Linked DNA regions of Homo sapiens. The protein of the gene in region 1 interacts with the protein of each later gene in a biochemical or structural test. Each region holds a gene or a part of one and is shown in the gene's direction. Other genes may lie near its edges.

Evidence for each region.
Region 2: the proteins of GNAI2 (region 1) and RGS4 form a complex in vitro, tested with the Homo sapiens proteins (one study listed by BioGRID).

The regions. Positions count from the first base shown.
Region 1 is NC_000003.12:50,252,143-50,257,639, forward strand, and holds part of GNAI2 (guanine nucleotide-binding protein G(i) subunit alpha-2), read left to right. Parts: intron 1-254; coding exon 255-396; intron 397-881; coding exon 882-1,042; intron 1,043-4,049; coding exon 4,050-4,178; intron 4,179-4,580; coding exon 4,581-4,710; intron 4,711-4,794; coding exon 4,795-4,948; intron 4,949-5,357; coding exon 5,358-5,497. UniProt on the Homo sapiens protein: Guanine nucleotide-binding proteins (G proteins) are involved as modulators or transducers in various transmembrane signaling systems.
Region 2 is NC_000001.11:163,074,832-163,077,302, forward strand, and holds the end of RGS4 (regulator of G-protein signaling 4), read left to right. Parts: 3' UTR 1-1,971; downstream 1,972-2,471. UniProt on the Homo sapiens protein: Inhibits signal transduction by increasing the GTPase activity of G protein alpha subunits thereby driving them into their inactive GDP-bound form. Activity on G(z)-alpha is inhibited by phosphorylation of the G-protein.

The DNA.
Region 1 (5,497 bases):
GTAAGTGCTGTATTCCAGAGGCAGTGCTCAAACTCCAGCTTCCCCTCTTCACCCTCTGGGCCTGCACTGCCCCCGACTACAGGCCCAGCCAGTCTTAGCCAGGCCCAGAATCTTCTGAGAAGCAGAAGGACCCTCAGGTCCCAGTGGGTCAGGGGCAGTTTTCCCTTCTCTGAAGCAGGTCCCAGTAGCCCCAGGCAGCCGTGGGAACTCCCAGTGCCCAGGGGACACTAACCTTCCTGGTCCCTGGCTATCAGGATCATCCACGAGGATGGCTACTCCGAGGAGGAATGCCGGCAGTACCGGGCGGTTGTCTACAGCAACACCATCCAGTCCATCATGGCCATTGTCAAAGCCATGGGCAACCTGCAGATCGACTTTGCCGACCCCTCCAGAGCGGTATGTGCCCTCCGCCCCACCCTCTCCCACCTCCCAAAAGGTTTCGGGGTGGCTGGTTGTGGTGGCTCATGCCTATAAATCCCAGCACTTTGGGACGCCGAGGCGGGTGGATCACCTGAGGTCAGGACCAGCCTGGCCAACTTGGTGAAACCGCGTCTCTACTAAAAATACAAAAATTAGCCGAGCATGGTGGCACGTGCCTGTAATCCCAGCTACTTGGGAGGCTGAAGCAGGAGAATTGCTTGAACCCGGGAGGCAGAGGATGCAGTGAGCCAAGATCGCCCCATTGCACTCTAGCCTTGGTGACAGAGCTAGACTCCGTCACAGAAAAAAGTAAACAACAACAACAAAAAGGTTTTAGGGCAAGTCTCATCCTAGGGAATCCAAGAATACCCTAGCCTGGGCCCCATTCCAGAGGTCTCCCTGCCTCTGGCAGAGTGGGGGTACATTCCTTCAACTGCCTGACCACCCGCCACTGTGCCCAGGACGACGCCAGGCAGCTATTTGCACTGTCCTGCACCGCCGAGGAGCAAGGCGTGCTCCCTGATGACCTGTCCGGCGTCATCCGGAGGCTCTGGGCTGACCATGGTGTGCAGGCCTGCTTTGGCCGCTCAAGGGAATACCAGCTCAACGACTCAGCTGCCTAGTGAGTGCTCTGAGGGGCTGGGCAGGGCAGGGCAGGGGCTGGGGGAGGACTAAAGGCTGGACCGGAGGGCCTGAGAACCCCCAGAAGGACACTGCTGGTCTTTGCTTATGAAACCGATGACTGTTAACCAAGGCCTTCCTGTTTTTTGGTTTGGGGGGTGGGTGGGTGTCACGTTACTGAAAGGCCAGGAGGAATGACAGGCAGGTGGCTTATACAGTACATCTCTTCCAGGCCAGTTGAGTCTGATCTGTCTTGACAGTCTTCTAAAGAACATTTGCGGCCGGGCGTGGTGGCTCACGCCTGTAATCCCAGCACTTTGGGAGGCTGAGACAGGCGGGTCGTGAGATCAGGAGATCGAGACCATCCTGGCTAACACGGTGAAACCCCGTCTCTACTAAAAATACAAAAAATTAGCCGGGCGTGGTGGAGGGCGCCTGTAGTCCCAGCTACTCAGGAGGCTGAGGCAGGAGAATGGCGTGAACCTGGGAGGTGGAGCTTGCAGTGAGCGGAGATTGCGCCACTGCACTCTAGCTTGGGTGACAGAGCAAGACTCAGAACATTTGCTGCCACCTGTTCTGTGCCAGGCTTCAAGGACACAGTGATGAGTGGAGCAAAGTCCCCATGCAGTGACAATTTAGGGTGTTAGTGAAAAGGTAGAGGTGGAGTTGGCCCAGAGACAGGATTGCTGAGCTCTGAAGGAGAGTCAGCCAGGGGAGGAGTGGATGAGGGGATTCCAGGCAGGGGCATAGCATGTGCAGCATCTCGGGGTGGTGGGGAGCTGGCTGTGCTTGAACATAGGCTGTGGAGGCTGGCTGGAGGGGGCCACAGGGGAGGAAGTTATCTGGGAGGTGACAGGTGTGTGTGTAGGTCAGAGCCCCTGGACCTCAGCTGTGACCCTCGCTGGCCCTAGGCTGAGGAATTACAAGGGGTCCCAGGAATCCCAGAGGCATGACAAGCCTGCACCCTTTCCACAGTTCTGAACTCCTTCCCTGTGGTATCTGTCATGTACTTGGACTGGTGCAGGGTGCTGAGGACCCCACGGGGAACAGGATAGACAGGCTAATAGCCATTGAGGATGGCTGCAGGGGACATCCACAGGCTTTGGATGGTGTCACCAGATAGGCTGCTGTCCCTGTACTCTAGCCTTCCCCTATCTCTGCTTAAGCCAGTCCCCTCTGACTGGAACACCCTTTTGCTCCTATTGTTCATCCAATCCTGAGCCTACCCATAGGGTGGATTTCAGCAAGGGTGGGTGGGAGGAGGAGGAGGGTCTTGCCTGGCTGTGATTCCTGAGCCCTGTCCAAGCCACATGAACAGCCTCCTCCTACCCTTCTTACATGGCCTGAATGCTCTTGTGAATATGTACCCCCTACAGGAGCTGTGGAGTCACAGCCAAATGCTGTGGGGGCCCCCAGGCCTCACCACTGCCCCTCCCTGAGATCTCTGGCCCAGCCACCAGCGAGCTTGGGGTCAGAGCAGCAGGGACCTTGGTGCCCATGATACTCAAAGGAAGCAGGAATAGAGCCACCTCCAGGCCACCTCCTGCTTCTCCATCATCCTCTTTCTCTATTCTCCAGACATTAGGCACCCACTGTGTGCCCAGCACAGTTTTGGGAGTGAATACAGGCCCTGTTCTCCCAGTCAGGTTTAAGCCTTGATAGCTCCCCCTGGGAATGGGTTGCGGATTGGAACACCACAGGAAGCAGGGCTCCTTCAGCCCCTCTTCGCAGCAACCCTCCAAGTGTGCAGCGAGTCAGGGGGTCCCTGGGGCGAACCCACCTGTTGGGGAAAAGGGAGAGGCTGGTGTGGAATGCACCATGGTACCTCCACATTGAGGACTCTGGCAGTAGGGGGCGGGGCATGGTATGCGGGTCACAGCACATGCGTCATCCTTCCCCATGGCCCTTCCTGTTTTTCTGTTTTGTCCCTGCTACTCTGAGATCATTTCCCTCTGGCCTGGTTTGGCCTGGGTGCTGGTGGGAGCCAAGGGCCAGCCCCAGCAGCCTTGCCCCAGGAATGAAAAGTCAGCTCTGGGCAGCAGCCTGGAGGCCTGGGACCAGCCTCCAGGGCATGGCAGGGATATTGAGGCAGGCAGCAGAGGCAGGCCCTGCAGGGGTAGCCTTGATACTAATTAAGGGAACTGGTAATGAGGAGCCCCTGGGACCCCTGCCAAGCAGGTGTCTGTGCCCTCCCCCTGAGGAACCCAGATTTCATTGGGCGCTGGGCAAAGAGCCCACTGGACCTGGCAGGCCCCAACCTGTCCAGCACCACATCGAGGGACCGCACCCGGCTGCTCTGCGGCTAATGCCGTAATTGCGCCCATTAGCATCCTGAATCCTTCACCGAAGGACTAATTTGCCTCCTCCCACCCTCTTTGCCTATAGCTCCAACATCCTGGATCCTGTCCGAGGCAGGTCTGGCTCAGACCCTGGGTGCTGGAGCTTGGCTGGCTAGCTGTCCACAGAGCTGCACCTCCTCCCATTCCCATTCTACAGGTGGGAGGCCGGGGGCTCTGAGTTCAGGTTTCTTCATTTGAGCAATGAGGTAATGCAGGCAGGGGTTAAAGAAACAAGGGCTGTGCCTAGGCCAGGCGCAGTGGCTCACGCCTGTAATCCCAGCACTCTGGGAGGCCGAGGTGGGCGGATCACCTGAGGTTGAGAGGTCAAGACCATCCTGGCCAACATGGTGAAACCCCGTCTCTACTAAAAATACAAAAATTAGCTGGGCGGCAGGCGCCTGTAGTCCCAGCTACTCAGGAGGCTGAGGCAGGAGAATCGCTTGAACCTGGCAGGCAGAGGTTGCAGTGAGCCAAGATCATGCCACTGCACTCCAGCCTGGCAACAGAGTAACACTCTGTCTCAAAAAAAAAAAAAAAAAAAAAAAAAAAAAGCAAGGGCTGTGCTTGAGAAATGGCATGGGAGGGAAGGGGCCTCTTGCAGCTGGCCCAGGGTCCAGCTAAGGAAGCCCCATGCTGGCCCCCACTGACCCTCCCACCCCCCATCCCCAGCTACCTGAACGACCTGGAGCGTATTGCACAGAGTGACTACATCCCCACACAGCAAGATGTGCTACGGACCCGCGTAAAGACCACGGGGATCGTGGAGACACACTTCACCTTCAAGGACCTACACTTCAAGTGAGCGAGCATGTGGACAGGTGGGAGGGGCAGGACCTGCCAGCCTCTGGGGTAGCAGAGGCAGGGGCTGGTCCAGGATCCCCCAGCCCCACTGAGGTTTTACAAGGCTCATGTGTTCTGGGCAAGCACATCCTCACCACCTAGTGAACCAGCAGTCAGGATCCACGCCACCTCTGCCAGCTGCTCACAGCCTCTGCTGCTCCTGCCTGATGTGGCTGCAGCCTGCCTGCTGTCCAAGCTCCTGGCCCAGAACCAGGGGTGAAGTGGGCAAGTGTGGATGATTCCAGAAGGTAGCTGCCCTACTCTGGGCAGGCCTCTGTCCTCAGTCAGCCAACCTGAGAAATGGGGTAGAAAGCCTCCCCCAGGCTCCCTTCCTGGAACTAAGGTGATCTATATCTGCAGGATGTTTGATGTGGGTGGTCAGCGGTCTGAGCGGAAGAAGTGGATCCACTGCTTTGAGGGCGTCACAGCCATCATCTTCTGCGTAGCCTTGAGCGCCTATGACTTGGTGCTAGCTGAGGACGAGGAGATGGTGAGAGGATGAGAGAATGCTGCGGGTGGGGGCAGCGGGCTTGGGGAGTGGTGGCTAGCGTTGACCTTGCTATTCTACCCCCAGAACCGCATGCATGAGAGCATGAAGCTATTCGATAGCATCTGCAACAACAAGTGGTTCACAGACACGTCCATCATCCTCTTCCTCAACAAGAAGGACCTGTTTGAGGAGAAGATCACACACAGTCCCCTGACCATCTGCTTCCCTGAGTACACAGGTGTGGGGACTGTGGGGATAGGGCCTCCAGAGGGTTGCTTCTTGTCCCAAGTAGCCTATGGTGACCAGGTGGCCCTCAGGCGCCCCCCACTGGACAGAAGTGTAACCTTGGAACACTGGCAGGGGCTGGTGCCTCACTTAGGCTTGTATAGTTGTGTGTGCACACATGAAGCCCTTAACACACTCAAGCATGTACCCCTGAACATGTGTACATGGGCATCCTCCTTCACACAGTGGGGTACCCCTTTGCACATCTGGCATGTATGGGCAGCCACAAACATTGTCATATTATGCACATGCATGCACAGGTTGTATGCCTGGCCGTCCACACGCACAGACCCTTGCTGCACACGTAGGATGCGGCCTGCCTGCCACACATGCAGCACAAGTCTTCATTTTCTCTCCCCCAGGGGCCAACAAATATGATGAGGCAGCCAGCTACATCCAGAGTAAGTTTGAGGACCTGAATAAGCGCAAAGACACCAAGGAGATCTACACGCACTTCACGTGCGCCACCGACACCAAGAACGTGCAGTTCGTGTTTGACGCC
Region 2 (2,471 bases), on another chromosome or scaffold:
GTCTGGATTTTCAAAGATTGTTGGCAGTTTCCTCCTCCCAACAGTTTTACCTCGGGATGGTTGGTTAGTGCATGTCACATGACATCCACATGCACATGTATTCTGTTGGCCAGCACGTTCTCCAGACTCTAGATGTTTAGATGAGGTTGAGCTATGATATGTGCTTGTGTGTATGTCTATGTGTATATATTATATATACATTAGACACACATATACATTATTTCTGTATATAGATGTCTGTGTATACATATGTATGTGTGAGTGTATGTATACACACACACACACACACACACACACACTTTTGCAAGAGTGATGGGAAAGACCCTAGGTGCTCATAACTAGAGTATGTGTATGTACTTACATGGGTGTTTTGATCTCTGTTCTTTCATACTACATTTGAACAGGGCAAAATGAACTAACTGCCATGTAGGCTAAGAAAGAAATGCTAACCTGTGGAAAGTTGGTTTTGTAAAATTCCATGGATCTTGCTGGAGAAGCATCCAAGGAACTTCATGCTTGATTTGACCACTGACAGCCTCCACCTTGAGCACTATTCTAAGGAGCAAATACCTTAGCTCCCTTGAGCTGGTTTTCTCTGATGGCACTTTTGAGCTCCTAAGCTGCCAGCCTTCCCTTCTTTTCCTGGGTGCTCAGGGCATGCTTATTAGCAGCTGGGTTGGTATGGAGTTGGCAGACAGGATGTTCAACTTAATGAAGAAATACAGCTAAGGCCTTGCCAGCAACACCTGCCGTAAGTTACTGGCTGAGTGAGGGCATAGAAGTTAAAGGTTACTGTTTTTATCCTCTATCCTTTTTTCCTTTCCTGATCAAGGTGCTCTTCTCATTTTTTCCTGAGAACCTTAGCCATCAGATGAGGCTCCTTAGTTTATTGTGGTTGGTTGTTTTTTCTTTATAATGGCTCTGGGCTATATGCCTATATTTATAAACCAGCAGCAGGGGAAAGATTATATTTTATAAGAGGGAACAAATTTTCACAATTTGAAAAGCCCACATAAGTTTTCTCTTTTAAGGTAGAATCTTGTTAATTTCATTCCAAACATCGGGGCTAACAGAGACTGGAGGCATTTCTTTTTAGGCTCTGAGACTAAATGAGAGGAAAAGAAAAGAAAAAAAAAATGATTGTCTAACCAATTGTGAGAATTACTGTTTGAAACTTTTCAAGGCACATTGAAATACTTGAAAACTTCTCATTTATGTTATTTATGATGTTATTTTGTACGTGTTATTATTATTATATTGTTTTATAAATGGAGGTACAGGATATCACCTGAATTATTAATGAATGCCCAGGAAGTAATTTTCTTCTCATTCTTCTAAAACTACTGCCTTTCAAAGTGCACACACACGCGTCCACATACACTGCATTCGTTGCTCCAGTATAAATTACATGCATGAGCACCTTTCTGGCTTTTAAGCCAATATAATGGGCTGCAAAATGAAGACACCAGAGTGTATGCATACAAATCTCACTGTATTAAAGATGCAGGTTTTCTAATTGTACCCTTCTTGTCTCTCTGGCAATCTTGCCCTTAATATCCCTGGAGTTCCTCATCAGTGTCATTTTCTGTTATACACAGTTCCACAATTTTGTCTCTAGTTGACTTCAAATGTGTAACTTTATTGGTCTTGCCCTATTATAATTGTCATGACTTTCAGATTGTATCTGAACTCACAGACTGCTGTCTTACTAATAGGTCTGGAAGGTCACGCTGAATGAGAAGTAAATTATTTTATGTAATACATTTTTGAGTGTGTTTTTCAGTTGTATTTCCCTGTTATTTCATCACTATTTCCAATGGTGAGCTTGCCTGCTCATGCTCCCTGGACAGAATACTCCTTCCTTTTGCATGCCTGTTTCTATCATGTGCTTGATAGGCCTCAAAGCTAATGCTTCCAGTGAAACACACGCATCTTAATAATAAGGGTAAATAAACGCTCCATATGAAACTATTTGCTTGGAAACACATTAATGATCCAGAGACATGCTATGAGAAACATCAGGGTGTAGGGTGACTTTAGAAAAATACTCATACTGAGTCTTTAATCCCTCCTGTGCCAGTGAACTCTGGGAAAGAAAGTACAAACTGAATATTGTTTATTCTTTAGTTCATGCCACTGCTCTGCTTGGCTCTACTCATAGAACCAAGGCAATCTTAGCTTCAGAGACTGCAAAACAGATTAAGTGATTTGCTTGCAGATTCTCAATCAATTTTCAAGGGATAGAGTTCACCTTCCAGAGCCATTCTTTTATTTCCAGTTACCCGCCTGTTTGAGAGATGATAGAGCAGTGGGAAATTGAGAGAGTTGAAAGGAGCTATAGATTCTTACCCAAACTTCAAAAATCCTTCCCTCCCTTTTGTTAATTCTCTTTCCTGGAAAAGAGGTCATAAAATGTTCACATCCTCAGTAATAGGCCCTGTGCTGTGTCTATTATGTCATGAGACTCCCAT